Linked DNA regions of Homo sapiens. The protein of the gene in region 1 purifies or fractionates together with the protein of each later gene. This does not show direct contact. Each region holds a gene or a part of one and is shown in the gene's direction. Other genes may lie near its edges.

The links.
Region 2: the proteins of SPNS3 (region 1) and PTPN2 purify together in Homo sapiens (affinity purification with mass spectrometry; one large-scale study listed by BioGRID and IntAct). This does not show direct contact.
Region 3: the proteins of SPNS3 (region 1) and BPIFB1 purify together in Homo sapiens (affinity purification with mass spectrometry; one large-scale study listed by BioGRID and IntAct). This does not show direct contact.
Region 4: the proteins of SPNS3 (region 1) and TMX4 purify together in Homo sapiens (affinity purification with mass spectrometry; one large-scale study listed by BioGRID and IntAct). This does not show direct contact.

Annotation. Positions count from the first base shown.
Region 1 is NC_000017.11:4,446,757-4,454,318, forward strand, and holds part of SPNS3 (protein spinster homolog 3), read left to right. Parts: exon of another isoform or gene 1-15; intron 16-139; coding exon 140-206; intron 207-1,398; coding exon 1,399-1,547; intron 1,548-1,932; exon of another isoform or gene 1,933-2,151; coding exon of another isoform or gene 2,152-2,195; intron 2,196-2,478; coding exon 2,479-2,631; intron 2,632-6,259; coding exon 6,260-6,449; intron 6,450-6,592; coding exon of another isoform or gene 6,593-6,700; exon of another isoform or gene 6,701-7,562. UniProt on the Homo sapiens protein: Sphingolipid transporter.
Region 2 is NC_000018.10:12,871,694-12,879,255, reverse strand, and holds part of PTPN2 (tyrosine-protein phosphatase non-receptor type 2), read left to right. Parts: intron 1-7,562. UniProt on the Homo sapiens protein: Non-receptor type tyrosine-specific phosphatase that dephosphorylates receptor protein tyrosine kinases including INSR, EGFR, CSF1R, PDGFR.
Region 3 is NC_000020.11:33,283,640-33,291,201, forward strand, and holds part of BPIFB1 (BPI fold-containing family B member 1 precursor), read left to right. Parts: intron 1-2,393; 5' UTR 2,394-2,434; coding exon 2,435-2,549; intron 2,550-5,101; coding exon 5,102-5,243; intron 5,244-6,245; coding exon 6,246-6,353; intron 6,354-7,317; coding exon 7,318-7,467; intron 7,468-7,562. UniProt on the Homo sapiens protein: May play a role in innate immunity in mouth, nose and lungs. Binds bacterial lipopolysaccharide (LPS) and modulates the cellular responses to LPS.
Region 4 is NC_000020.11:7,981,414-7,988,975, reverse strand, and holds part of TMX4 (thioredoxin-related transmembrane protein 4 precursor), read left to right. Parts: intron 1-1,586; coding exon 1,587-1,688; intron 1,689-5,118; coding exon 5,119-5,182; intron 5,183-6,354; coding exon 6,355-6,725; 3' UTR 6,726-7,562.

The DNA of each region.
Region 1 (7,562 bases):
TCCTCAGTGAAACAGGTCTGAGCCTGCAGAGAGCCAGCTCCCTGGGGCGTGGGGGGGGCACCCTGGGTCAGGCTGGTGGTGGGGTCTGCCTTCCGCCTCCCTCCCCTCACAGCCCATCGCCCCTGCCCCTTTGTTGCAGTGGTCTGGGCTACGTGCTGGGGTCGGCTGTGACGATGCTGACTGGGAACTGGCGCTGGGCCCTCCGAGTGAGTCCAGCTTCCTTTTCTTCCCTCTGCTTTCCCTCTGGACCGGCAGGGACTTTCCAGCCTTGGGTGACCTTAGCCACTTGGCGTAGCACCCGGCGCCATTAGGGGGACGGGGGGTGGTGGTCAGGCATCGGCAGCTTTGGACATGTGGGGCCTCATAGGGAGCATGGGGTGTGGAAGTGGTGGCCGTGGGCTCAAAAGCTGGCTGCTTAGTTTACCAGCTGTGTGATCTCAAGCAGATCACCTTCTTCTTCAGAGCCTCAGTTTGCCTGTCGGTAAAGCGGGGGTACTAAATGCTACCTAAGGCATCTTGAGGATCAGTGAGATGAGAGATGGAAGTTCCAAGCCGCAGGGTCAGGGTGTAGAGTAGGCCCTTGAGGACTGGCAGCTAGGCTTGCTCAGCAGTTCAGCAGAATGCTCAAGAAGATGCCGGGCAGGCCCCGCTGGGGCTCCAGCCCTTGTGTTTCCAACGTGGGCATGGAGAGGGACCATTCTGAAGAGGAAGGAACTCCATAGTGGAGGGTGCTGAGCTCAGCCCTGGGAGTGCAGCTTGGTGGGAATGCAGGCTGCGCGCAGACCACTGTGGAGCCAGCCCAGTGCCGGGGAGCTGGCGTGTGAAGTGCTGAAGCCAGATTTGGAATTTTGGGGGTGGGGTGGGCTTCAAGGAGGCAGGTCTGACCTGGCTTGAATAAACCTTCTCATGGTCTCAGCTGTTTGAAGGCTGCCCCAAGGTGGGTAGTGAGATCCCCGTCCTTGGGGTTTGAGCAGAGGGGCCGCTAGGAGAGGATGCCAGGGCAGGACTGTGTGGCAGATGGAGGCCTGGGCCAGGGAAAGATCAGCTCTAGGACAGCAAGTACTCAGGAGGCAGGGCCAGTGTAGCGAGGGTCCCTGTTCTCAACCGTCTCAGGCCCACTGACCTCAAAAGACTGGTGTCTGTACTGGAAAGACGGGAATTACATGAAGTCCCAAAGAGTCTCCACTCCCTGGAAAGGCTGCAGTGGTGAGGGCTGAGAAACAGTGGTACATCCTGCTCTGTGGATACCAGCATCCAGGAATCAGGTCACCCCCACTACCCCCAGGGCTTGGAAACCAGAGGTCAGCCACTGGCTGATACTGTGGCCAGTTGCCCCCGGGGGTCCCTTGGGCTGTGATAATATGCGGCCCTGAGCTTCCTGGGCCCTCCTGTCCCCAGGTCATGCCCTGCCTGGAGGCCGTGGCCTTGATCCTGCTTATCCTGCTGGTTCCAGACCCACCCCGGGGAGCTGCCGAGACACAGGGGGAGGGGGCCGTGGGAGGCTTCAGGAGCAGCTGGTGTGAGGACGTCAGATACCTGGGGAAAAAGTGAGTATCCCTGCTACCCCCTGCAAGGCACAGAAAAGCCCGTTTGTCTGCCCCAGCATCATTGACCCCCTCTCTCCACCTCCAGGGAGCCCTCCCTGGTTGTCCCAGTGTTCACAGCCCTCCTCTTCCTCTGAGATCGCACTTACCAACTGAAGTGCCTCTCCCTCCCTTAGGGCTCAGCCTCCATCACCTTGCCATGTGACAGAAATATGGACAGAGTGGGAGGGAGATGGCGTGAGCCCCAGCCTTCCCTCTGCCCTGCCCATAAGTGGCTCCAGCACTCAGAGCCTCAACGTCCTTTGTATTCAATGGATGGAATTCTCCAGCCTTGCCCCCTTCTCCGGGTTGCTGGGAGGATGCTGGGAATTCATCACTCACCTCTCCAAGCCTCATGGCGTGCATGATCCTCTGTGCCAGCCATGCTGGGGGAGGCAGGCAGGAGTCAATTGCTGGTCCCAGGCCTCATGATTCACTGCAAGGCAGGGCATGGACAGGATTCAATTCTGTTACTGAGCTGTGAAACTGGTCGGGAGGACTCAGAGGAAGACAGGGCAGGCAGGGACAGCTTCCTGGAGAATGTGATGCTGGATGGGGGCCTCCCAGGATGGGGAGATTTGGTCCTGCAGAGAGGAGGGAGGAGGAGGCAAGGTGTGTGAGTTGGGGGGGTCTCAGAAATGTTGGGGAGGCTGGAGCTCAGGGTGCTGCCAGGAAGGATCTGGAGGCTGGAGCTTGGGGTAACCTGAGTGTCTTCTTCTTCGGAGCCTCAGTTTGCCTATCTGTAAAGAGGGGGTAGCAAATGCTACCTATGGAATCTTGAAGGTAATGAGACAAGATGGGAAAGTTCCTAGACTGCCCAGGAGTGGGGAGGAGTGGACAGGCCCCTTCAGCCCCAGCCCTCTCCCAACTCCAGCTGGGGCACCTCGTCTTGCAGCTGGAGTTTCGTGTGGTCGACCCTCGGAGTGACCGCCATGGCCTTTGTGACTGGAGCCCTGGGGTTCTGGGCCCCCAAGTTTCTGCTCGAGGCACGCGTGGTTCACGGGCTGCAGCCTCCCTGCTTCCAGGAGCCGTGCAGCAACCCCGACAGGTGAGGGCATCCGGGGGCCCTGGGCACCTGGCCCGGCTCGGGGGCTCTTGCTGAGGAAGTTCTGAGGTTCTGAGCTCCAAAATTCAGTTTCTTGGGGTGGGGCATTTGGTGCTGTGTGAAGACAGTGGAGCTCAGGACCCAGATGGCAGCAGGAGGCCTGGCTCTGGCTCTGGCTGAGCCTCTGCCACTCTGGGTGGCCATGGCCAACTCTCTTGTCCTCTCTGGGCTGAATTCCCCATATCTCCACTCTTGGGGCTGCTGTGGGCTCCAGAAGGCACTGGTTGGAAATGGGGGTGAGGCTTCTGTGGGGCTGTGGGATGAGAGGAGCCTTAGGCAGCCACCCTTTAGAGGGGCCTGTAGCGTCTTCTGTGAGGGCATCCCATTTTACAGATGGCAAACTGGGGCCTGGGAGGCCTTGTTACTTCGCTGGTTTTGGGATTTCACGTGTGTGGGAAGGCTGCCGGGAGGGGAGGCGCGGGCACTCTGCCCTCAGGGCACGCCCTCTCCCGCTTCCTGCCTGGCTGTCTGCTGCCCGGCTGGGCTCCACTTCTGTTCCTATCGCCTTTGACCCTGTTCTCCAAGAGCTCCAGTGACCACTTGATGCTGAGTCAAGGACATCCTTCAATCCTCCCTTCCTTCTCTCCTCCTCCTCCTGGAACCCTTCACCCCGGCCTCCTCCCTGCCTCCAGGGGCTGCTCTCCAGCCTCCTTGCAGTCCCCTCCTCCTCTCTGACCCTGTCCTGGTGGGTCCTGGGGGCTCCTGGGGATGCTATCTTCTTCCCTGGAGCTCCATCCTCCCCCAGGGTTTTGGCGACACTCGTCCTCTGCTGACTGCACCCACGCCTACCTTCTCCTTCCCTCCTCCTCCTCCTTCCTCCTCTTTTCTCTCTTCTCCTCTCTTCTCTTCTCTCCTTCCTTCTCTCTTTCTTTCTTTCTCCCTCCCTCCCTCTCCCTCTCCCTCTCCCCTCCTCTCTCTCTCTCTCCCTACCCCTCCCTCCCTCCTTCCCTCCCTCCCTTCCTTACTTCTCTTCTTTTCTTTCTTTTTTGAGTCAAGGTCTCACTCTGTCACCAGGCTGGAGTGCAGTGGTACAAACACAGTTCGCTGCAGCCTCGACCTCCCAGGCTTAAGCAATCCTCCCACCTCAGCCTCCCAAGTAGCTGGGACCACAGGCACACGCCACCATGCCTGGCTATTTTTATTTTATTTTATTTTATTTATTTTTTTTTGAGACAGAGTTTCACTCTCGTTGCCCAGGCTGGAGTGCAGTGGCACAATCTTGGCTGACTGCAGTTTCCACCTCCCAGGTTCAAGTGATTCTCCTACCTCAGCCTCCCGAGTAGCTAAGATTACAGGCATGTGCTACCATGCCCAGCTATTTTTTTTTTTTTTTTTGTATTTTTAGTAGAGATGGGGTTTCACCATGTTGGGCAGGCTGGTCTCGGACTCCTGACCTCGAATGACTGGCCCGCCTCAGCCTCCCGAAGTGCTGGAATTACAGGCGTGAGCCACCGTGCCCGGCCGAACTTACAGATCCTTAAGGGCTCTCTTGGCTGTAAGAGTCTGTGATGCTGGGAGGGCCCTGTGTGGATGGAGGGAACATGAAGGGCTTGGTAGCTGGGGCATGTCCTCTGGCTGCCCCTCCTGCTTAGGGGCTGGCGGGGGTGCATTTTCAGGCAGCCTGTCTAAATAATCAATCCTAAGTCTCATGAATATCTCGAGAACCTGCCAAGGTCAGCCCAGACCAGGACTCAGAGGCAGCTAGCATACATCCGGGATTTGGGTCATTTGACTGGGCTGAGCCAGACCTCGCACAGCTTGGAAGCCTGGGAAGGTTTAGAAAGCACTTCTTCTTCTTCTTCTTTGTTTTTTTTTTTTTTCCATTTGAGACAGAGTCTTGCTGTGTTGCTAGGCTGGAGTGCAGTAGCACGATCTCGGCTCACTGCAACCTCGGCCTCCCGGGTTCAAGCGATTCTCCTGCCTCAGCCTCCCAAGTAGCTGGGACTACAGGCGCACACCACCACGCCCAGCTAATTTTTGTACTTTTGGTAGAGAATTTAGAGAATTCTCAGTCATTTGTGCAAAGTGAGGGTGGGAGAAGAGAGGGCAAGCTACATCGGTCAGCGTGGACCAGTCCCGCAGAGTCATCAGTGCTGGTCAGGAGCTTGCTCAGAGGACGACAGGGAGCTATTGAGAGGTTGGAAAGATCCTGGTTGGACTGGTGTTTTCAAGAGTTCACAGTGGGCACAGTCTCAGCGTTCCCTTTGAGCTCCTTTATTTGTTTTGTTTTGTTTTGTTTTTGAGACGGAGTCTTGCTCTCTTGCCCAGGCTGGAGTGCAGTGGTGTGATCTCAGCTCACTGCAACCTCCACCTCCCGGATTCAAGTGATTCTCCTGCCTCAACCTCCTGAGTGGGCTGGGATTACAGGTGCCCACCACTGTTCCCAGCTAATTTTTGTATTTTTTTTTTTTTTTAGTAGAGACGGGGTTTTGCTGTATCGGCCAGGCTGGTCTTGAATTCCTGACCTCAAGTGATCCACCCACCTCGGCCTCCCAAAGTGCTGGGATTACAAGCTTAAGCCACCTTGCCTGGTCCCCTTTGAGCTCCTTTAAAAGGGGGCTGGAGGTTGCACAATGGACCAGGAGGGTGAAGAAGTATATTCAAATCCTGGTCTGTAATTTACCAGCTGGGTAATCTTGGCCTTGACTTTTCTCAGCCTCACCTTGCTCACCTATCCATCTGGGAATTGTTGCCCAAGCTGGAGTGCAGTGGTATGATCATAGCTCACTGTGGCCTCGAACTTCTGAGCTCAAGCGATCCTCCCGCCTCAGCCTCCTGAGTAGCTGGGACTACAGGTGCACGCCACCAAGGCTGGATGATTTAAAAATTTTTTGTAGAGACAAAATCTTTCTGATCTGGAACTCCTCCCACCACAGATCTCCTGCCACAAAATGCACTCCTGGGGAGCCTTTGTGGAGGTTATTTTGGAGGGACAGGTCTCCACAGGAAGGATGTACAAGGGGAAGCCAAGCAGAGTAGAAGTGGCTCTAAAAGTGGGTGGGAAAGGGACGGAAGTCAGGTAGGGGCTGCCTGAGAGGGGTTCAAAGACGGGGAGTGGAAGGATGGGATTCAAGGAGGGAGGGCGTGTAGAGAGCCCAGACAAGGGCCAGGTGTATCACAGGGGCTCAGTAAATACATGTTTGCTTCCCTCCATTCCTCTTAGTACTGGGAGCTGGAAAGAGAGAAGGTTGGGGCCAGGGTGGGACCCTGGAATTCAGATTTTGAGTGGGGCAGTTTTGGGGGGTGAAAGGGTAAGGGTCAATGGAGATGAGGCAGGCTGGGACCTGGGGTGCAGGGTGATCACCCACATGGCCAGTGGGATCCCCAGGATGAGACAGGAGATGAGGCAGGAAAGGGGGTAGGGGAGAGCAGTGGGACATTGGTCCCTGGGAGTATCAGTGAGGAGGGTGGGTAAGGTTCTGGGTCAGGTCAGGGGCCCACAGCCATATTCCCTGTAGACACCAGATCATGCACTTGAGCCGAGGGGCTAGACCTGGGGCTGGGAGCAGGATAAGAGTCCCTATGCTAAGCTCACCCAGCTGACCAACCCTTCTGTGCTCTTCCCCATCAGCCTGATTTTTGGGGCACTGACCATCATGACCGGCGTCATTGGGGTCATCTTGGGGGCAGAAGCTGCGAGGAGGTACAAGAAAGTCATTCCAGGAGCTGAGCCCCTCATCTGCGCCTCCAGCCTGCTTGCCACAGCCCCCTGCCTCTACCTGGCTCTCGTCCTGGCCCCGACCACCCTGCTGGCCTCCTATGTAAGTGAGAGCCTCTATGGAGGTGGGGACAGGGTTGGGGGGCGAGGAACTCCTGTTTCCACAGGCTCATGCTGCGCCCGGCCTTTATGTACAATTATGTTGATCACTCCTTCTGAGTAGAGCTTGTTATCCCCATTTTACAGATCAGTAAAGAGAAGCTTGGCTGGACGCGGTGGCTCATGTCTGTAATCCTAGCACTTTGGGAGGTCAAGGCCGGCCTGGCCAATATGGTGAAACCCTGTCTCTACTAAAAATACAAAAAATTAGCTGGGCATGGTGGCAGGCACCTATAATCCCAGCTGCTTGGGAGGCTGAGGCAGGAGAATCGCTTGAACGCGGGAGGTGGAGGTTGCAGTGAGCTGAGATTGCGCCACTGCACTCCAGCCTGGGCAATGGAGCAAGACTCCATCTTGGGGGAAAAAAACAGAGAGAGAAGCTTACCAGGAGTTCCACAGTGAAGAAGGGGCAGAACTGGGATTTGAGCCTGAGCTTTTCTGACTGTAAAAGGTGTCCTCTGAGCATTGGGTTAATGTGTTAATTTGAGAAAATAGGACTCATTTATTGCCAGGGCATATTGTGGGCCCAAGAAGAAATAGAGCAATTCTCCCCAGGTTACAGAGGAGGGAAGCAAGGCCCAGATTGGTTATGGCCAATGTGGACGCTGCTTTAAGGGCAATAATCATGGTAATATCAAGTGTTCCAAATCCACATCCCATCACACCCCTTCATGGGCCTCACACTCTGGCTGTGCCAGCCGTGTGGGCACACACACTTCCCAGACTTTGCACGCGTCCATTTCTTCCACCAAGAACACCAGTTCCTCTTTTGTGCATCCTGAAATCCTCCTTCTGCAAGACTCAACTCAAAGTCCGCTTCCTCCAAAAGCCTTCCCCTACCACTCTATCCTCACACCAGAATTCACGTTCCCACTTGGGCTCAGCACCTGTTTGGGTCCCATGAGGCACCAAGGTTTATGGGGCCTGTCCACAGACAGGGAGCCCAAAGGGCAGGACCAGAGCCAGAGGGTCCCTGTGTGCAGCCGTGTCCCTGGCTCCCCAAAGCCCCAGCCCTGCCTGTCCCCCAACATGGGAAAGGGCTACTGCTTCTGGGAAG
Region 2 (7,562 bases), on another chromosome or scaffold:
GAGGTGGGAGGATCACTTGAGGTCAGGAGGTTAGGGCTGCAGTGAGCCATAATTGTGCCACTGCACTACAGACTAGGTGACAGAGTGAGATCCTGTCTCTAAAACAAGAACAGCAAAACAAAGGGTGCAGTTGGAAAAGTTTAATTTGGTCTGATTGTGTGAGGTTAATTCTGACTTTTTGAGTAATGTTCATGATCCCTTTTTGGCTTTTCCTTTTGTCACTGCTGATTGCTGTCTTCATCAGGCTGAGCTTTGAGAAAGGCAGAGAGAAGGAATGGAGTCTGTGTGCCTACTGAGGAAAAGACTAAAACTGGGGAATCGCAAAAGCTATGTTATGGGTTGTTTCTAAGAAGTGATGGCTCAGAAGGAATTTGGCTTATTTATTTTTAAATTCCTTTCTTTTTTAAAGAGTTCTCACTCTGTTGCCCAGTCTGGAGTACAAGTGCAGTGGTGCAATCATAGCTCACTGCAACCTTAAACTCCTGGGCTCAGGTGAGCCTCTCACCTCAGCCTCTTGGAAATTGGTTGATTAATTAGGGTTTATAAACAATGGAACTCCTGACTGACTTCATTTTTCTTTTTTTGAAACCAAGTCTTGCTCTGTCCCCCAGGCTGGAGTGCAGTAGTGTGATCTCAGCTCACTGCAACCTCTGCTCCCCCCAGGTTCAAGCAGTTCTACTGCCTCAGCCTCCCGAGTAGCTGGGATTACAGGTGCCCACCAGCACGCCCAGCTAATTTTTGTATTTTTAGTAGAAACGGGGTTTCACCATGTTTGTCAGGCTGGTCTTGAACTCCTGACCTCAGGTGATCCACCTGCCTCGGCCTCCCAAAGTGCTGCTGGGATTACAGGTGTGAGCCACCACGCCCAGCCACATTTTTCTTTTTCTTTCTTTTTTTCCTTTTTCTTTCTTTTTTTTTCTTTTTCTTTCTTTTCTTTTTGAGACTGGGTCTCACTTTGTCACCCAGTCTGGAGTGCAGTGGCGTGATCTCAGCTCACTGCAGTCTCGACCTCTTGGGCTTTAGACATCCTCCTGCCTCAGTCCCCCACGTAGCTGGGCCTGGCTAATTTTTTTGTATTTTTTGTAGAGACAGGGTTTAACTATTTTGCCCAGGCTGGTCTTCAACTCCTGAGTTCAAGCAATCTGTCCACCTCAGCCTTCCAAAGGCTTAGGATTACAAGCATGAGCCACTGTGCCTGGCCATTTTTCTTTTTTCTTTTTCTTTTTTTGAGACAGTCTTGCTCTGTTGCCCAGGCTGGAGTGCAGTGGCGTCATCTCGGCTCGCTGCAAGCTCTGCCTCCCAGGTTCACGCCATTCTCCTGCCTCAGCCTTCTGAGTAGCTGGGACTACAGGCGCCCGCCAACACTACAGGCGCCCGCCACCACGCCAGGCTAATTTTTTGTATTTTTAGTAGAGACGGGGTTTGACCGTGTTAGCCAGGATGGTCTTGATCTCCTGACTTTGTGATCCACCTGCCTCGGCCTCCCAAAGTGCTGGGATTATAGGCATGAGCCACTGCGCCTGGCCGCCATTTTTCTTTATTAGAAATTTGTAGTTCAAATATTGCTAGAGAACAATTTTTACCATTTGTGAGTCAGCTAATTTTTAGAAGTCAGATATCAAGTGCACACTGTTCTTCTCATACTTACAGCGGGGCAGCCAGTTAGGCAGGTGAATCAAAGCTGTCTTATTCTAAAACACTTCCCTTGCCTACTAGTTACACATTCTCCTGCCTGCTGTCTAATCTCAGTGCTTTTACATGGTTGCACAAACTCTGAATTCCCTTGAAGATTGGCTACTCTCTCACACCTTGGAGTCTTCATGTGTTGGATATACTCCATGCCTACCATATCTATTTGGGAAACATCTTCAAGACTAGACCGTAGTCTCCTTGGGCAAAGTTAAATGCTCCCCCTTCTCTCATTTCTTAGTTCTCTATATTCTTTTATTAGAATATGAACCACATTGTTTTGTAACTGTCTACTTGTCTGTTCTGTGTAGCTCCTTGAGGGTGGTCTTTTTTTTTCTTTGTTTTCCCACCACCTACCTACGGGACCTGAAACATGTTAGATGCTCAGTAAATATTCAGTAAACACAGGAAAACTGTTCCCTTTTAAAATGTCAGCACCTTAGTTTATTCCAAACCCCTCATTTATGGCTGAGGAAACACTGGGCCAATACAGTGTTGTGACTTATCTGATGTTACAATATCTGCTAGTGTCATAACTGGGACTCAAATCCAGTCCTTCTGATTCTCGTTTCAGCACTGCCCTAATTTACCCATGTGACTACCTGTAGTGCTTTCTTCTTATGATCTATTTGAGATCAGTGGCACAGAGGGAATCGTCTTAATTTTGATGGCTAGGAGGGAGTGGATGTGTTATAATAGGTAGGGTCATTTTGGGACTTGAGGCCTTTAAAACAGTGTCTGGGATCCAGGGATCAGACTTGAAAGGTATTTGCAAATCTCCTGAAACTGCTAAATTTTATGTACGTGTGTTCCCAGGTATTTCGTTTCTAGGTGATTCTGTAGCTTTTGTCAGTTTCTTAGTGGATTTGTCTGTGATCCCTCAAAAGGTAAAGACCACTGCTTGAAGGGAAAGCAGCCTTGGGATGGGTGCCCCAATGGGGAATGTATACCTAGAAATCATATTGTTTTGCCTTTGACATGTGTTTATAGATTACTGATATCTATAATTACGGAAATCCAGATAGTTGCGTTTGTCTCCTAGCTTTTCTAGTTGCCTCTTTTTTGATTTCTTGATTTTAACCAGAATCTTCTTTTTTTCTTGAGAAGGGGTCTCATTCCGTCACCCAGGCTGGAGTGCAGTGGCACGATCGTAGGTCACTGCAGACTCAAAACTCCTGGCTCAAGTGGTCCTTTGCCTCAGCCTCCCGAGAAGCTGGGACTACAGGCACACACCACCACGCCTGACAAATTTCTTCTTCTTCTTCTTCTTTTTGTTGTTGTTCTTGTTGGCCAGGCTGGTCTGGTCTTGAACTCCCGGCCTCAAGTGGTCTGCTCACCTTGGCTTCCCGAAGTGGCGAGATTACAGGCATGAGCCACCATGCCCAGCCCTTAACCAGAATTTTGTTTTGTTTTGTTTTTTGAGACAGGGTCTCACTCTGTCACCCAGACTGGAGTGCAGTGATGAGATCACGGCTCACTGCACAGATGCACGCCACCATGCTTGGCTAATTTTTTATGTTTTGTAGAGACAGGTTCTCACCATGTTGTCCAGACTGGTCTCGAACTCCCGGGCTAAAGCGATCTTCCGGCTTCACCCTTCCATAATGCTGGGGAGCCACAGTGCTTGGCCAACCAGAATCTTAAAAGCCCTTTTTACTTTTTCCAGATAGTTACTCTGCAGAGAATTTCTGATTCCCAGTTGGAGAACTGTTACAGCTCTCTCAGTCCCCTGCTGTTCTTTTAGCTACCTTGTCTTTGTCCTCTTACCTGTCCACTCTCTACTCCCCTTCTTCCCTTTGGTCTCCAAATAGTCCAGATAAACCAGAGAGATGGACAGATAAGGTCTGGGTACGCGAAATTAAAATTAACATAGTGTGCTCTTCACTTTCTTGAATAAACGTTACGTATGATTTGTTTCCCTTGGAAATCCTCATCTAGATTCTCTACTCTCTATTCCTTAACTTAATGCCCCATTAAGGTAGTTTTTTCTTAATGGAAAGCTGTTGAGAGTCAGAGGATATTTAAACCAACTAATAAACTGAACTTTTAATAATACCACCCTTACTTTGGATAAGAGTGATTAGCCATATACTAAATCCTCAATCAGTTTAGCATGTAAAATTTAAGACATAGCAGCTGATAACTGAGGAAGAGATACATTTCCACAGGCTAACTTTAAAGAATATAAGCTCTCACTTTCCTGAGTAGAAGAAAACTAAACTTTTCTGTTCTATGCTTTTTTTTTTTTTAATTTTTATTTTTATTGATCATTCTTGGGTGTTTCTCACAGAGAGGGATTTGGCAGGGTCATAGGACAATAGTGAAGGGAAGGTCAGCAGATAAACAAGTGAACAAAGGTCTCTGGTTTTCCTAGGCAGAGGACCCTGAGGCCTTCCGCAGTGTTTGTGTCCCTGGGTACTTGAGATTAGGGAGTGGTGATGACTGTTAACGAGCATGCTGCCTTCAAGCATCTGTTTAACAAAGCACATCTTGCACTGCCCTTAATCCATTTAACCCTGAGTGGACACAGCACATGTTTCAGAGAGCACAGGGTTGGGGGGTAAGGTCACAGATCAACAGGATCCCAAGGCAGAAGAATTTTTCTTAGTACAGAACAAAATGAAAAGTCTCCCATGTCTACTTCTTTCCACACAGACACGGCAACCATCCGATTTCTCAATCTTTTCCCCACCTTTCCCTGCTTTCTATTCCACAAAACCACCATTGTCATCATGGCCTGTTCTCAATGAGCTGTTGGGCACACCTCCCAGACAGGGTGGTGGCCGGGCAGAGGGGCTCCTCACTTCCCAGTAGGGGCGGCCGGGCAGAGGCGCCCCTCACCTCCCGGGTGGGGCGGCTGGCCGGGCGAGGGGTTGACCCCCCCACCTCCCTCCCGGACGGGGCGGCTGGCCGGGCGGGGGGCTGACCCCCCCACCTCCCTCCCGGACGGGGCGGCTGGCCGGGCGGGGGGCTGAACCCCCCACCTCCCTCCCGGACGGGGCGGCTGGCCGGGCGGGGAGCTGACCCCCCCCCACCTTCCTCCCGGACGGGGCGGCTGGCCGGGCAGAGGGGCTCCTCACTTCCCAGTAGGGGCGGCCGGGCAGAGGCGCCCCTCACCTCCCGGACGAGGCGGCAGGCCGGGCGGGGGCTGATCCCCCCACCTCCCTCCCGGAAGGGGCTCCTCACTTCCCAGTAGGGGCGGCCGGGCAGAGGCGCCCCTCACCTCCCAGACGGGGCGGCTGGCCAAGCGGGGGGCTGACCCCCCCACCTCCCTCCCGGACGGGGCGGCTGGCCGGGCGGGGGGCTGAACCCCCCACCTCCCTCCCGGACGGGGCGGCTGGCCGGGCGGGGGGCTGACCCCCCAACCTCCCTCCCAGATGGGGCGGCTCGCCTGGCGGGGGCTGACCCCCACCTCCCTCCTGGACGGGGCGGCTGCCAGGTGGAGACGCTCCTCACTTCCCAGACAGGGTGGCTGCCGGGCGGAGGGGCTCCTCACTTCTCAGACGGGGCGGCTGCCGGGCGGAGGGTCTCCTCACTTCTCAGACGGGGCGGTTGCCAGGTGGAGGGTCTCCTCCCTTCTCAGATGGGGCGGCTGGGCAGAGACGCTCCTCACCTCCCAGACGGGGTCGCGACCGGGCAGAGGCGCTCCTCACATCCCAGACGGGGCGGCGGGGCAAAGGCACTCCCCACATCTCAGACGATGGGCAGCCGGGCAGAGACGCTCCTCACTTCCTAGATGGGATGGCGGCCGGGCAGAGATGCTCATCACTTTCCAGACTGGGCAGCCAGGCAGAGGGGCTCCTAACATCCCAGACGATGGGTGGCCAGGCAGAGACGCTCCTCACTTCCTAGACGGGGTGGCGGCCAGGCAGAGGCTGCACTCTGGGCACTTTGGGAGGCCAAGGCAGGCGGCTGGGAGGTGGAGGTTGTAGCGAGCCGAGATCACGCCACTGCACTCCAGCCTGGGCACCATTGAGCACTGAGTGAACCAGACACCGTCTGCAATCCCGGCACCTCCGGAGGCCGAGGCTGGCGGATCACTCGCGGTTAGGAGCTGGAGGCCAGCCCGGCCAACACAGCGAAACCCCGTCTCCCCCAAAAAAATACGAAAACCAGTCAGGCATGGCGGCGCGCACCTGCACTCGCAGGCACTCTGCAGGCTGAGGCAGGAGAATCAGGCAGGGAGGTTGCAGTGAGCCGAGATGGCAGCAGTACAGTCCAGCTTCGGCTCGGCATCAGAGGGAGACTGTGGAAAGAGAGGGAGAGGGAGACCGTGGGGAGACGGAGACCGTGGGGAGAGGGAGAGGAGGCAGAGGGAGAGGGAGAGGCTTTTTTTTTTTTTTCTTGAGACGGAGTCTTACTCTGTCAACCAGGCTGGAGTGCAGTGGCACGATCTTGGCTCACTGCAACCTCCACCTCCCTGGTTCAAGTGATTCTCCTGCCTCAGCCTCCCAAGTAGCAGGGACTACAGGCATGCGCCACCACACCCAGCTAATTTTTGTATTTTTAGTAGAGATGGGGTTTCGCTGTGTTGGCTGGGCCAGTCTTGAACTCCTGACCTCAGGTGATCCACCCACCTTGGCCTCCCAAATTGCTGGGATTACAGGCGTGAGCCACCGCGTCCAGCCTGTTACATTCTTAATTGGAATAGCATTGCCCTGCAGTGCCATTATCTGAAATAGCTTTTAAGAATGAATGTAATGCCATTTTAAATGTATTTAAATGTTGTGCCGATTTAATGTTCTATGTACGGTACAGTACTACTAATGGTTCAAGAAGTTGTTTTGACTTAACAGTGAAATCCTTGCTTTTAAAGATCATAGATACCTTTAGACACCTTTAAGATGAAACATGTTTATGAGAGGAAATGTCCGCACAAATACAATCCCCCGCAAACTTAGCATGTGGTTTTAGTAGGTTCATAGGCCCACCTGGTGATCCCTAGGATAAGAAATTGTGGTCAAGAAACTGATTTCAGGGGCCGGGCTGGTGGCTTACACCTGTAATCCCAGCACTGTTTGTCTCAAAACAAAGAAACTGGCTCAAGGTTGGATACTTTTCAAACGAGAGGAATGGAGGAAGGGAATGCAATGAATAACTTTTCAAATCCAGTATGTCTGATTTAATATGCCGTTTGCTCTGTCAGTTTCATTTGGTTCGTGTCACTGATCATTTATAACCTTTTTTCAAACTGCTTTCATTCCCCTAAGGAAAATCTGATACTGAATTATTTTATTTCTTCTTTCACTATATTTGAACGGTTTTATAGTCTGAAAGCTATCAATTTCTCATTACAGTTTACTTCATAGTACTTCTAGGAATTCTTCCTGTGGTTTGAGGTAAGGCTACAGGATTCCTAGAGTTTGTACCCCTCTAGTCCCAGTAAAGGACCTGGTACATCAATCAGGGTAGCCCTAGAAAGTTGGAGTAACTTCGTAACAGTGGGAACTGCTTCTGTTCTATGTTTTTTGTGGGTTTTTTATTTGTTTTTGTTTTTTTGTTTTTTTGTTTTTTTTTTGAGACAGAGTCTTGCTCTGTGGCCCCAGGCTGGAATGCTACGGCACGATCTCGGCTTACTGCAACCTCTGCATGCTGAGTTCAAGCGATTCTCCTGCCTCAGCCTCCTCAGTAGCTGGGATTACAGGCGTGCACCACCACGCCCAGCTAATTGTTGTATTTTTAGTAGAGACAGGGTTTCCCCATGTTGGCCAGGCTGGTCTTGAACTCCTGACTTCAAGTGATCAGCCCACCTCTCAGAGAGCTGGGATTATACATGTGAGCCAACATGCCTGCCCTGCCTCATTCTTTATACTACAGTAAAGTCCCGGTTGGGCAATAATCTAAACATAAAAGAAATGAAACCATAAAATTAT
Region 3 (7,562 bases), on another chromosome or scaffold:
GACATGGGAGTGGAGGACAGTCAAAGAAGGGATCCTGGAAGAGGTGATGTGTTGGTTGCAAAGCCGAGTAGAAGGCGATTGGGCAAAGGAGGAGAGAAAGATATTCCACGAAGGGGAACTAGCAGAAGCAAAGGCTGGGAGAGGAGGTGCCATATGACAGGGGCGTGTGTGGTGCCTGGATCTGGGGGAGGAGAGTCTTTTCCACAGGAGGGAAACAGGGATGCTACCATCCTCGTGGGTCCCTGGGTTTCTCTGATCCAAAGAGGACTGAGCAGTGTGTACAGATAATGCAGGACAGACAGAGTCAAGGTATTTGCAAGGAAAATATGGAGTGGGGCCACAGGGGTGCCTGGATGCCGGGGTTCAGCTCTGTCTTCTGGCTTTGGCTGCAAGGTGTCTCCTTCTGACTCCAATATTAGTAATAATACCTGTCATAATTATCGTGGAAGCTACCATCTACTGAACGCTTGGCCATGCCAGGCCACAAATAGATTGTCTCATTTAATCTTCCCAAAAAGCCTATGACATAAGTACTATAATTATTCCCCATTTTATAGATGAGTAAATGGAGGCTCAGAAAGGGTAAGTCACTTGTCAAAGATCACAGAGCAAGTGGTAGAGGCAGGCCTCCAACTAGGGTTCATCTGGCTGCCAAGCCAATAATATTTTCCCCTCCACCTTCAGGCCTCCTAACACTAACCTTTTCAGCTTAGCAGGCTCAGATTTCCAATTCTTTCGGGGCTTCCAGAGGCTATGCAATTATTCAGCAGCCATTTATTAAGCACCTGGTCTATGCCAACCACTATACTGGATGCCAGGGACACAGCAGGGAGCAGGCAGACCCAGCCCTCCCTCCCAGAGCTCACAGCTTGGTCAGGGAAGCAGAGGCTGAATCATTATTGCAAGGGTCTCAGAAGAGCTCACACTGCTCCAGGGCACAGGAGACACATGTCATCCGGATGCCACATTTGTCTTTGGCAAAAAGAAATCCACATGCTGAACCAAGCGAGGGGCTCAGATCTCTGCAGCGTCTCCCCTCCCTCCAAGCAGGACAGTCCACAGGGGCAGGAGCTTCCATGGGGGGCTGGCAGACAGAGCCAGGGTGCAAGCTGGAGAGCTCAGGACTGGACTACAGATGTTGATGCCACACCCCTGTGGAGGGAGGGGACAGAGCAGCCAAGGGGCCAGAATACCCCCAAGCTCCTCTCCCTGGCATGAGCCACAGGGCCCTTTCTCTCTCTCTCTTTCTCTCTCTCTCTCTCTGCCCTTCTTTTCCTGGCTCCAAGAAGCCATTCAGTCCCTCCCCAGCCCCCTTAGTATTGCAGATTAAGCAAAGAGCTTTTTCACAACTTTGAGTCCTACCTGGCTCCTCATTTCCTTCCTGCCTCCAACCTTCATGTCTTGGGCCCCAGGACAACATTTCTCCAAGTGTGGTCCAGGTTCCCTGTCTGCAGGACAGGGGAAGCTTTATAGGGAAAGTGACAAATCTTGGCAGGGTTTTAAAGGATGAATAGGAGTTCATCAGGGAGATATGGGAGGAGAAAAGCATTCCAGGAAGCAAGGAAGAGCAAGAGCAAAGGCACGGACACAGGAGAGAACACAGTATGTTCTGAGACCTTCCAACTGCTTGGAACTTGCTAGAACAAGGGGAGAGAAAGCAGGAGGTGAGGTCAGCAGACGGTGAACCATAGAGGGTTTTAAGTGTCAGACTGAGGGGTGGGAGACACGGGAAGCAGAAGTTCTTTGTTCTGAGCATTGTTGCTGGATTTTCTGTAAGAAAATAGCTAATACAGGCTGGGCGCGGTGGCTCACGCCTGTAATCCCAGCACTTTGGGAGGCCGAGGTGGGCAGATCACGAGGTCAGGAGATCGAGACCATCCTGGCTAACACGGTGAAACCCCGTCTCTACTAAAAATACAAAAAAAAAAATTAGCCTGGCGCGGTGGTGGGTGTCTGTAGTCCCAACTACTCAGGAGGCTGAGGCAGGAGAATGGTGTGAACTCAGGAGGTGGAGCTTGCAGTGAGCCGAGATGGCACCACTGCACTCCAGCCTGGGTGACAGAGCGAGACTCTGTCTCAAAAAAAAAAAAAAAGAAAGAAAATAGCTAATACATTCCAAGTGCTTACCATGTGAAAGACACCGTGCTAAATGCTTTCCAGATATTAACTCACTTAATCCCTCAACTCTGGGAAGCTGGGGTCATTATCCCCATTTGTCTGATAAGAAAACTGAGGCACAAAGAGGTTACGTTGATTGCCTAAGGCTACACAGCTAGCCCAGGCAGTTAAACACTGCACTCAACAGCCTCTCCTGGACACCGTGCCCCAGGTCACCGGGCATCATGGGCCTGCCCTTGGCCCCTCTGCCTCAGGTCCCTCTGTGCTCACCCCAGGTCTGGCATCCTGCACTTGCTGCCCTCTGACACCTGGGAAGATGGCCGGCCCGTGGACCTTCACCCTTCTCTGTGGTTTGCTGGCAGCCACCTTGATCCAAGCCACCCTCAGTCCCACTGCAGTTCTCATCCTCGGCCCAAAAGTCATCAAAGAAAGTAAGTTTTGTCCCTCCGGAGCTGGCTGCCATAAGACAAGGGGGTAGGTGGAGCAGCTTCCCAAAGGAGGGAGAGAGTTCCTCATCACGGGGGATGTGCATGGCTGAGATCCCAGAACGTGGGTGAACATGAGTGGGAGGTTGTAAAGGTCTGGAGAGTCTGTGATCTCAAGAGTCCACGATTCCAAGAACCCCTTCTTAAATTCCACAGTTCCAAAGACCCTGAGTTTCCACAGCCTGCAGAAGGGGCATGCAGCCACTGCATGCAGTGATGCAGCTGCCTCTCCCACTGCCTTCACCTGAAATCCCATCGTCAGAGCACCCCGTCTTAGTTAGACCCAGTGTGCTCCTCCTCCCCAGAGCAGAGACCCTTGACTGCAAGTGTGGCAGCCTGGGTCCCAGGCACAGTGTATCACTTTCCAGCTCTGGGGCACTGGGCCAGTCCCTGAGCCTCAGCTTCCACCTTGGGACACAAATAAGAGGGCCTTCCTCACTGGGTGGTTGGAATTGACTAGAGCTTTATGAATGCTATGACCATGGTTTCAACCTCAGCACTTCTGATGTTGTGGACCAAACAACTATTTATTATGGGGGGTGTCCTGGGCACTTTAGGATGTTTAACAGCATCCCTAACCCAACTGTGACAACCAAAAAGGTCTCCAGACATTGACAAATATCTCTTAGGGGACAAAATCATCTCAGTGGAGAACGACTACTCTAAAGTCTCATCCCCTTAGAGGGGACTCACCTGTCAGCTCTGGAGGCCACTTGAGCACTTAGAGGACCAGACCTCTGCATTCAGGGGGACTAGGGGCCTGGGTCATGGCCAGAGGGGCAGGGGCAGGTCCTGTGGGACCAACAGGCTCTGTAGCCAGCGGATGGATTCCCAAGTAAGGACGGGAAGCAGAGGGCTCTGAGAGGTTGGAGGGAGGCAGAGGTGGCCTGGATCCACACTGTGAAGCTCAAGCATGTGGAATTTCAGCCAGAAGGAGCTTAGAGATGAACAACCATGCTTTAGGCTCTCCTATAAGGAGTTGTGTACAAGTGGTTGGTTTTGAAGGTGACCCCAGAAACACCTACAGGAGTGTGGGGAGGCAAGGCAGGGAAGGAAAGGCATCCCATGAGGGGTGCATGTCCAAGCCAGTTACCACTGTGGCGACTGAAGCTCAGTCCTGCCTAGCAACTGCATCTATTAGGGCCATTCAGGAGACAGAAACCACACAGTAAATGCCAACAGGTAAGTTTAATGTAAAGAAGTATTACCAGGGGATTGGAAGAATGAGGAATTGGCTAAGAGGGAAAACAGACAGAGCTCTAAAGGATAACCTAGGGATGGAGGGGGTAGCCAAGGACAGAGCAAGTTCAGAGGTAGAGAATCCTCCCCAGCCCTCTTTGTAGAGGGTGTGGTTGAAGCCCACTGTGTGGTGGAGAAGTTTGCTGGCTTGTCCCAGGCCAGAGCTGGTCCACAGTTGGCAATCTGACGCTAGTGGGTGGAGAACTACCTGCCAGGGGGCCAATAAAATTCTCTGGGAAGCTGCCCCTGGAGGAAGGGGGCTGCTGTTAACTCACGGGGAAGCTGTCTCTGGGGAACTGCCTAGAAGCTAGCCAGGGTGCCTGCAGAACTCACTCAGCAAAAGCCACTGGGCAGTGACACCATAGGAACCTGGAAAGAGAAGCACACCAGAGCCATGAAGGGAATCCCCCCCATGCCCCTCCAGAGTCTCCACTGAAAGGGCTTAACACTGTGCCAAATGGCAAAAAAGAAATATTCACTGGGCCCAGTTCCATTACCACAGAGCAGGCAAAGTGGGTGGATTTGCAGCTGAGAGGCTATAACCCAGGAGCTCTGATACACAATGAGGGACACACATCTGAGCCATCCTGCCTGAGGGGTGAGGGAGCTGGGATATTGATACACCAACTCTCACCAATCACTGGCTGAAGTCTGCTCCTGGGGCATCAGCTCTCCAGCACTTCTGACCTGCTCTGCACATGAGCCAGATGGGCTCTAGCTGCTCACAAAAAGCCAGCTGGGACAAGAACCCAGGGCTCTTGACACTTATGCCTCTGTCCTGGCTCCTTCTTCCTCTGCTCAGCACTTGAGGCTTTTTGGACAACACATCCATAGGATATGGATGCCAGACAATTGTTAACAAGTGTGCTTTGGCAGCAAAACAGCCCCAAACAGAGTTTTGAGGGTTCCCTGCCTGTTGGCCCTAGAAATGCTTGCAACTGGCTCAGGGGATGAGTGCAGGTCCAGGTGCTGAGTGCAGTGGCCGACACTCCCCACAGAGGCTGGCAATGCTCAGGGGTGTGAATGGTCCCAGCCTCGCTCCTGATGTGAAAACGACCCATCTGGGCTACTGTCCTCAAGGCTACATCTACACAGTGGGGACTGGCAGGCTGGTCCTGACCTCCACCACAGTAGAGATGGCTACACCCTCGCCTTACCTCAGGGAGCCTCGAGTGATACCCCTCCCCAGCCTGGAGCTCCCACCAAGCCTTCCTTCTTGCCCCTCCTCCTGGGCCCTAATCCCTGGGGTCTGCCTCCAGAGCTGACACAGGAGCTGAAGGACCACAACGCCACCAGCATCCTGCAGCAGCTGCCGCTGCTCAGTGCCATGCGGGAAAAGCCAGCCGGAGGCATCCCTGTGCTGGGCAGCCTGGTGAACACCGTCCTGAAGCACATCATCTGGTGAGTGGAGCAGGACCACACCAGGAGCTAGCCCCTTCCCACACCTTTGCCCGGGACACGCTCTGCATGCTCAGTCAACCAGTCTGCAAGCATCGACTTGTGTCAGATCACAAAGAGTGGATCAAACAAAGCCCCTCCGTCAAGAAGCTCCCAGAATAGTTAACAAGAACCATAAGACAGTGACACAGGAACCCTAATACAACAACCCCAGAGCAAGGCCAGGGACGGTGGCTCAAGCCTGTAATCCCAGCACTTTGGGAGGCCAAGGTGGGTGGATCACCTGAGGTTAGGAGTTCGAGACCAGCCTGGCCAACATGGCAAAACCCCATCTCTACTAAAAATATAAAAATTAGCCAGGCATGGTGGCAGAAGCCTGTAATCCCAGCTACTCAGGAGGCTGAGGCAGGAGAATCGCTTGAACCTGGGAAGTGGAAGTTGCAGTGAGCTGAGATGGTGCCATTGCACTCCAGCCTGGGTGACAAGAGTGAGATTCTGTCTCAAAAAAAAAAAAACAAAAAAAAAAAAACAACCCAGAGCAAGGTTGTCTGGGGTGGCACAGGGAAGGGATGAGGTGATGCTTCTCACTGGAGGTGACAGTGGAGCCGATGACTCAATGCTCACCAGGAGACAAGAAGCAAATGGCATCCAGGTAGAAGAATCAGGCTGGGCAAAGGCATGGAGAAGTGACAGTCGGTCAGAATGGCTAGAGCTCAAACCTCAAGGCAAGGAGTAAGGGATCAGCAGGGTCAGGTCACAGAGGGTCTTATGAGTCAGCTCAAGGAGCTGGGAGTCACCACCTAGAAGAGAAGGCACCATAATAGCATTGTGAGCAGGAGTGGAGGGGAGGGATGGAGGCAAGACCATCTGGAGAGGAGTCGGTGGGCAGGGCCAGGGTCCCGCTGCTGCCTAGGCACCCCAGGGAGATGGAAAAGATAGAGAGGGAGTGGATTTGGGAATAATGAGCCGGAGGCATGATTCTGATCTCTCCTAAACCCCATCCAGGCTGAAGGTCATCACAGCTAACATCCTCCAGCTGCAGGTGAAGCCCTCGGCCAATGACCAGGAGCTGCTAGTCAAGATCCCCCTGGACATGGTGGCTGGATTCAACACGTGAGTGACCCCTCCATCAAGTACAGTAGGCTTGACAGGCTCATCTGCTCGTTCCCCCTCCCCCGCCCCCACCATGCAGGTGTCTGGAAAAGAGAGTTCCGAGCAGAGAGAAGAGCAAGTGCAGAGGCCCTGTGGCAGCAGTGTACTTGCCTTGCTCAAAGAATGGCAAAGACAGGGGAAAGAGAGAGGGGGCATGGTAGGAGATGAGGCCAGCAGGCAGCCGAGGCCAGATCATACAAGGCCTCTTGGGAGAAGATAAGGACTTGGCTTTTGCTGAGTAGGACGGGAGCCAGGGAGGATTCTGAGCAGAGGAGGGATATGCTGTGCTTTCACATTTTTAAAGACTCCTGGCTGCTGTGGGGAAAAAAGACTTTCTGGGGGTAAGAGTGGAGACAGGAAGGCTATCCCAAAGCTACTGCAACAATTCAGGAGGAGATAATGATGGCTTAGACCAGGGTTTGGGGCAGGGAGGTGCTGAGAAGTTGATTGGATTCTGGATATGTTTTGGAGGTAGGTGGGGACACCAGGATATCCCGGGGAACTGAATATGCATGTGTATTCAGGGGGAAAGAGAGAGAAGTCAACGATGACTCCAAGAGTTCTGCCTGCACCACTGGCAGGATGGAGTGGTCAGTAACCAAGACAGGCAAGGCCATGAGAGGAGCAGGTCTGGGGAAGAGCCAGTCCAGTGTTGCATGCGCTAAACTTGAGAAGCCCGTGAGACATCGGAGTAGGGGGCTGGGGGTAAGTTTGGAAGCTGTCAGCAGACGAAAGACGTTTCAACCAAAGAGGAGTCTGAAAACTGAGCCTGGGACATGCTGGGGTGAAGTTGGGTGAAGATGAGGAGAAACCAGCAAAGGAGACTGAGGAAGGAGGTGAGGGCTGGAAGACAGAGACGGACGGCAGGGTTGCTCCAGCCCGAGCTTGCCTGGTGCTCACATGGTCAGGTGCCTCCACCCGCTAGGCCCCTGGTCAAGACCATCGTGGAGTTCCACATGACGACTGAGGCCCAAGCCACCATCCGCATGGACACCAGTGCAAGTGGCCCCACCCGCCTGGTCCTCAGTGACTGTGCCACCAGCCATGGGAGCCTGCGCATCCAACTGCTGCATAAGTGAGTGTCGCTGGCCACCAGCCGGGCTCCCATCCTGCCTGGAAGGAACGCCAGGCAGTGGACTTCCCCCATTTTACAAATGGAGAACGCTGAGG
Region 4 (7,562 bases), on another chromosome or scaffold:
CAATCTCAGCCCACTCCCTCTGCCTCCGGGGTTCAAGCAATTCTCCTGCCTCAATCCCCTGAGTAGCTAGGATTATAGGCGCTTGCCACTACGCCCAGCTGATTTTTGTATTTTTAGTAGAAACAGGGTTTCACCATGTTGGTCAGGCTGGTCTCGAACTCCTGACTTCGTGATCTGCCCGCCTCGGCCTCCCAAAGTGCTGGGATTACAGGCATGAGTCACCGTGTCCAGCCAAGTTACTCTTAATAAACAGTTGTCCTGGCTAAACACACACTGATGACCAGTGCCATCAACAGAGGACAGATGCCAGCTTTACAGTTTGAGAGTGTGTTTGCCTTTCGTATGAATAAATAGCTCAGGCATTTGATGCATCTTTTCCTTATTCAACAAATACTGATTGAACACTTTGATTCCATGTGTCAGTGTTTAAACTACTTGCTGCGTCTTTAGCTCTATCTCTTCTGCTGAATAAGAAATTGTAGAGAGATATTTCAGATTTTGCTAAATCAGTTTACAAGCTTTGTTCTTTATTTATCATTCCAAATTAAGCCAGAATAAAATATGTTTTTTAATTGCATTGACATAAACTAAGAAACCAATGGGAGTGATTTAGATTTTGAGAAATAGGAAATTAAAATAGAAACTTGGACTCATTTTCATCAACCTTACTGGTTCTAGGGAAGTCATTGTCATTACCTCTCTTGCTGATGATATTTGGAGCCATATCATCCTGTGTCCAGTAGTTACTTGAATTTTAATGGCCATTTTTGAAGCTGTCAGGGTCTTGAACAAATGACTAAGTGATTGTGAGGAAGCATGGCTCCTGCAACTCTACATCTAAGTAGGTTTTGACTTTGAAATAGCAAGTTCATATCTGTTAATTTCTTTATGATTTAGCATGTAAATACTTTCTAGCTGTGATTATGTCCCTTCACTCATTTTTAGAGTGTTTGTCATCAAATAGAGTCTTAGGGAACAGTAAGCATGAAGGGATATACACTCTATTCAAAGACTGCTGGAATCTCATTTGCTCATAATAAATTAATCAGAAAAACTTTCTTCTGTCTACTGTTACATTTTATGTTTTCTGGTAATTTACCAAACTTTGAAAGGATGAATAGGTGTAGAGCAATGAGAGTCTAATTAGGAAAAAGAGGTATGGAGACATTTTAAATGATTGACGTTCTGTAAGTCGTAATTTAGTTTTACTAAAAAGTCAGAGGCCCAAAAAGTTTAATTTTTTCATGAATGCCCTATTATAAGTAAACATTGAGATGTATATAATTATTAGGGGAGGAGGGCCAAAAGCATCCATCATGATGGAAGAAAGGACTATCAAAACGATTCTACCAGAATTCTATCCAGATTATGAACTCTAAGCAAGTATAACTTTTTTTTTAGTAATGACCTTAATTACTACTCTCAGTTTCCCAATATTATAAAATTGACTTGTTCTTTAAGAATCATTTAGATACATAAAGCTTTGTGGGAACCTATGTATGTAGAAACAACAGCTAGAGAGAGAGATTGAAATATTTTTGGTTCTCTTAAAAATTAATGTTTTATTTTTTTTCTTCTGATTCCAGCATCTTCACAACTATTTCACAGTGACTCTTGGAATTCCTGCTTGGTGTTCTTATGTCTTTTTCGTCATAGCCACCTTGGTTTTTGGCCTTTTTATGGGTCTGGTAAGAGATAATACCAAACTTTTTCTATCTTTAAGGCAAAATGAATTTCATGTACAAATAAAAGGCAGCCAAGAAAGAAAAAGCACATAAAAAATAGTATTTTGTGCAATCTAAGTAGTTAAATAGCATTTGCTTGTTTGAGACTGCTTTCAATGGTAATGTGAGATATAACAGAAAATTTATTAAATTCTTATCCCCTAATCCTATCCCTTAAGTATTTTGAAGATGTGTACTGCCTATAGACAGTAATTAAAAAAAAAAAAAAAAAGAGACCTTACTAGAATTGATAGTTTCTAAGACAACTGAGTCAGCTGTGATTTCACACATTGCCTGCTTAATTAGAAACACTGTAGTGATAAGGCCAAGGTTTTGAATTTGTTCCTTGTGTAGATGCAAGATTGTTGTTGTTGTTGTTCTTATCCTCCAGTTAAACTAATCCTGACTAGCCGCTTATGCATACACTCTGGTTTTCCTGAGATAGATAATGTAGTTAACACAACACAATTATTCTTTGGGCATGAAAATCAGTATGCAGTATATATCTCCCCAGGTATTTTCTCCCCAGGTATTTCAGGCAAGAGTTGAATAATAAATTTATTTATCTAACTACATAGGCAACTATAAATGTTCAGCATGTTGTACTTCTTGTTATTTTTTATTTCTCTTAACCTAATCTTGATTAGTTTGATTGCATTTTAAACCCTAATTAAACCAAAAAGTTTTTAAAAACCTTTATATTGTATACTAAACACATAGTTCCTAAACACTATAATGGGAATAATTGATGATTACTAAAAATTTATGTCAAAGAACAGACTTTAAGGTAAGATTATCTTAAAGTCTGTCCTTATATTTTATAATGAATTTTGGCTCTTTAGCAAGTTCTTTTTAAAAATGTTAACAATTGACTTATAGTAAGTCACAACCCCAAGAGGCCAAGGAGGCTCGATTTGACTTTTCTATGAACATGCTTAATACATATCATGGCTTATCTTTGAAACTTGGCTCCTGATGTTAACTTCAGGGATAAGAATGGGACTTACTTAGATATCTGTATATGTCCTTCATTAGGTCCTGGGTATGTTCTGTTCTGTTGCATTAATCTTTTTGCTAATTAACATGTCCCCATTGCTCCCGTCTAAAGGGATTTGACACCGGATATAAATAGAATGTGATTGTCTGTGCTTCTCCCATCTGTTGTCTGGTGCGAGATTTTTCTAGCAGTGTATTTTGGGGCTACCATAGTGTGAGGTTCTTGTAGGGGGAAACAGTATGAGGTCCCAGGCGAGTCAATGATGGAGTTATAGGGAATGTAGGTTGTGTGTGACCCTGTTGGAAGACTAGTGAAAATGCTTAGAGTTTTAGAATATTATTTTTGATGTTGACTTTAAGTCCATGAAATTGAGTCAGGCCTGCCTGCCTATGCCTTAGATTCCTTTGGAAACCTAGATTCAGATAATCAGTGTAGAAAGGTTATTGGAGGCTTGGCCTGAAGAAAGGAGAGAGTGATTCTAGCCTGTTCAAGTGATTAAGTGAGATAGACTACCCTTCCTTAATAAGAAAATAACTTTATTTAACAAAATATTATTAACTTTATTAACGAAATAATAATTTCAAAGCATATGAATCATAAATTATAAAAGATTCATACATTTACTGTTAATAAGTTTCCAAAAAATAACAAACACATATCTGTGTTCAAAGTACCTGTTTTAGGCTGGGCACAGTGGCTCAGGCCTGTAATCCTGGCACTCTGGGAGGCTGAGGCAGGTGGATCATTTGAGCCCAGGAGTTTGAGACCAGCCTTGGCAACATGGTAAAACCCTGTCTCTACAAAAATACAAAAATTAGCCTGGCATGGTGGCACACACCTGTAGTCCCAGCTACTCGGGAGGCTGAGGTGGGAGGATCACTTGAGCCCAGGAGTTCGAGGCTGCTGTGAGCCATAATCTTGCCACTGTACTCCAGCCTGGGTGACAGAGCTAGACCCTGTCTCAAAAAAAAAAAAAATATATATATATATATATATACACACACACACATATATATACACACACACACAGAATGCCTTTTCTATAACTGTTAAGTATATTAAAGTAAACACACAACTGCTAGAATTTTTGCTTTTAGTAACCTTTAATTTCTTATGTACTTTCAACTTCTGTTTTGTGAGAGTTACACAATTTGAAACAGCTGCATTCTTATCCCAATTTAAATCACCTATTCCAGAATGACATTTTTGTTAACTTCTAGGATGATAGAAAAGTGTTTGTCAATTGTTTTCATGTCTTAGCCACATAGAGAATATTTACGTAGCATGCCAGGGTAAAGGAATACTGGGGGACAAAGCTGCCTGAGGCTGGCTCTGAATGGCCCAGACTCCTTGAAGGATGACATGTCTGTTGGGAAGCTAGGATCCAAATTTTTTTTTTTTGTAATCTCACCAACTGAGTCAAAATTAAATGAGTAAATTAGATAGACTAAACCTGAGATAAAATTGTTGAGTGTACAATTTTCCAGAATAGAAGAGTAGGATAAATTAAGATGATGGATATGGTAATTACACTGATTTGATCATTATACTGTAATACATGCATTGAAACATCACATTGTACCCCATCAGTATATATAGTTACTGTGTGTCAATTATAAATAAAAAAGAAAAGTCAGAAAGAAACATTATGTCCTAGAATAGCCAGTAAGCATATAACTATCACATTAAAAGGTAAGGTTTTCAAACCTGAATCATTTCAGATGGAATGTTTTTTTTTCTCTTTGTTGTTCAAATTGATTTAATGGCTTAGAGCTTATTGTTCTCCAACCCACCAAGCCTTCCTGCAACTCATTGCCCCACCTCCTGGGTCTCCTCAGTTTGACATTCAGGGCTTTCTCTGGATCCAAGACCCCCATGGAGATCCAACTTAGTTTAGCTTAGAGCAGCCAGGCGGTGCTGCTGTTCTCTCCTGACTGCCCAGGGCATTAAATGCCTCCTCCTTCAAAGTCATCCTCAATCCTTCCCCACCCACAGCTGGCTGTAACATTTGTGAAATGTTCTTCCATTCAATCAGGGGTTACCCGTTGGTGAGGGGCAGCCTATATACAGAGTGGTTTGGTTGTCCAGAATAGTGTATTTAAAAAGACTTGGTTCATAGTGTCTATCTTCTTATACCTGCTTGGTTCATCTATTTATAGTGGGTTCTCTGTAGACTTTTGGCTTTGTGACCACTTTCTAAATTAATATTTTCCTGTATTATGTCACATTTGAAAAGTAGGAAATTCTTAATTATATCCTTGTCTCTTGTGAAGACTTTTGACTAGCTGCTAATTATTAGTCTAAGAATATCTGATTATAGAAGCAAGGCCTAATTTTGAGGTCCTTTGGTAATAAATGTCCTATCTATTCACTGTAAAATCACTTTTTTCCTTCCAGGTCTTGGTGGTAATATCAGAATGTTTCTATGTGCCACTTCCAAGGCATTTATCTGAGCGTTCTGGTAAGTACGATAAGCTCCTGTGATCTAGAGTGTTTTTGGAATTCTGTGATGTGCCTTTTTGTGCTCATATAGATAGTGGGTTTTCTCTGTGATTTACTAGGTGACCAAATAATCACTACCAAATTTCTTAAAATGTGTTTTCTAGGTAGATTTGAACAAAATTATTTTTCTCCCTTTCTTAAATTAGGAAATATTTCATTTTGGCAATTGCTTTTTCTTTTTAAGTATGTGCTCTTCATTAATCAGTGTCATATTTTCCTTTATTCTAACTAGAACTAGAAGGGAAGAAGGGAAACTCAATATATATTGCTTCTGCTGTGTGCTAGTAACTCTTCTAAGTCCTTTAAAAGCAGTCTTCCCAAATCCTTGCACTGCTCCACACTTCTTCTGGGGCCAGGTGCCTCTGGATTTGCATGTCTTTATTCCAGACTATTTTTGAGACTGCATAAAGATGTTCATGAGACTTTCTAATTGTTGAATTTTATGTGGGAGTTTAAATAAGCTCATGTTTCTTTTTAGTTCTTGAAGTTTTTGAGGCTTTGAGACTTCCATTGATAATTTGAAAATATGATTCTTAGATTTCTTAAAAGTAATAGAAACCCAATATCAAGGATTTTAGGAAAACAAATGAAAATTTATTAGCTCACATAACTGAAAAGCCCAGGGACATTCTAGCTTCAAGCACGGCCCAAGTGATGTTAGGTTTCTCTGTCTGTGTGGCTTATTCATAAGAGCTGTTGATAGTCCTTGCGCATTTTCTCTGTTTAAAAATCCCTGAAGAAAAAGAGGCTGTTTCTCCTGACTCTGGCCCAGAACCTCTGTGGAGTACTTTGAGTGGCTTAGCATGTCACATTTCTGAACCAATCACCATGACCAATAGGGTCACTGAGCTTTCTACAAGACACAAAATACCGAGCGTAAAGGACCCTTTGCCCTTGCTGCCCACATGCCCTGCTGAAGTCATTATGGTCCATGAAATCTCCAGAGACAGGTGGAGAAGCCCTAAATGGGGCTAGGATGCCAACCAGAGAATCTGTCCTATATGACCATAGTTTCAAGATAGAAAAAACTGTCACTTACCCTCTATTTTTATTTCACAGCTAAACACACTCAATTGATTACCGAATTACCATTGTTTATTCAGAGGATATTCCTCTTTCTTCCCTCCATAGAGCAGAATCGGAGATCAGAGGAGGCTCATAGAGCTGAACAGTTGCAGGATGCGGAGGAGGAAAAAGATGATTCAAATGAAGAAGAAAACAAAGACAGCCTTGTAGATGATGAAGAAGAGAAAGAAGATCTTGGCGATGAGGATGAAGCAGAGGAAGAAGAGGAGGAGGACAACTTGGCTGCTGGTGTGGATGAGGAGAGAAGTGAGGCCAATGATCAGGGGCCCCCAGGAGAGGACGGTGTGACCCGGGAGGAAGTAGAGCCTGAGGAGGCTGAAGAAGGCATCTCTGAGCAACCCTGCCCAGCTGACACAGAGGTGGTGGAAGACTCCTTGAGGCAGCGTAAAAGTCAGCATGCTGACAAGGGACTGTAGATTTAATGATGCGTTTTCAAGAATACACACCAAAACAATATGTCAGCTTCCCTTTGGCCTGCAGTTTGTACCAAATCCTTAATTTTTCCTGAATGAGCAAGCTTCTCTTAAAAGATGCTCTCTAGTCATTTGGTCTCATGGCAGTAAGCCTCATGTATACTAAGGAGAGTCTTCCAGGTGTGACAATCAGGATATAGAAAAACAAACGTAGTGTTGGGATCTGTTTGGAGACTGGGATGGGAACAAGTTCATTTACTTAGGGGTCAGAGAGTCTCGACCAGAGGAGGCCATTCCCAGTCCTAATCAGCACCTTCCAGAGACAAGGCTGCAGGCCCTGTGAAATGAAAGCCAAGCAGGAGCCTTGGCTCCTGAGCATCCCCAAAGTGTAACGTAGAAGCCTTGCATCCTTTTCTTGTGTAAAGTATTTATTTTTGTCAAATTGCAGGAAACATCAGGCACCACAGTGCATGAAAAATCTTTCACAGCTAGAAATTGAAAGGGCCTTGGGTATAGAGAGCAGCTCAGAAGTCATCCCAGCCCTCTGAATCTCCTGTGCTATGTTTTATTTCTTACCTTTAATTTTTCCAGCATTTCCACCATGGGCATTCAGGCTCTCCACACTCTTCACTATTATCTCTTGGTCAGAGGACTCCAATAACAGCCAGGTTTACATGAACTGTGTTTGTTCATTCTGACCTAAGGGGTTTAGATAATCAGTAACCATAACCCCTGAAGCTGTGACTGCCAAACATCTCAAATGAAATGTTGTGGCCATCAGAGACTCAAAAGGAAGTAAGGATTTTACAAGACAGATTAAAAAAAAATTGTTTTGTCCAA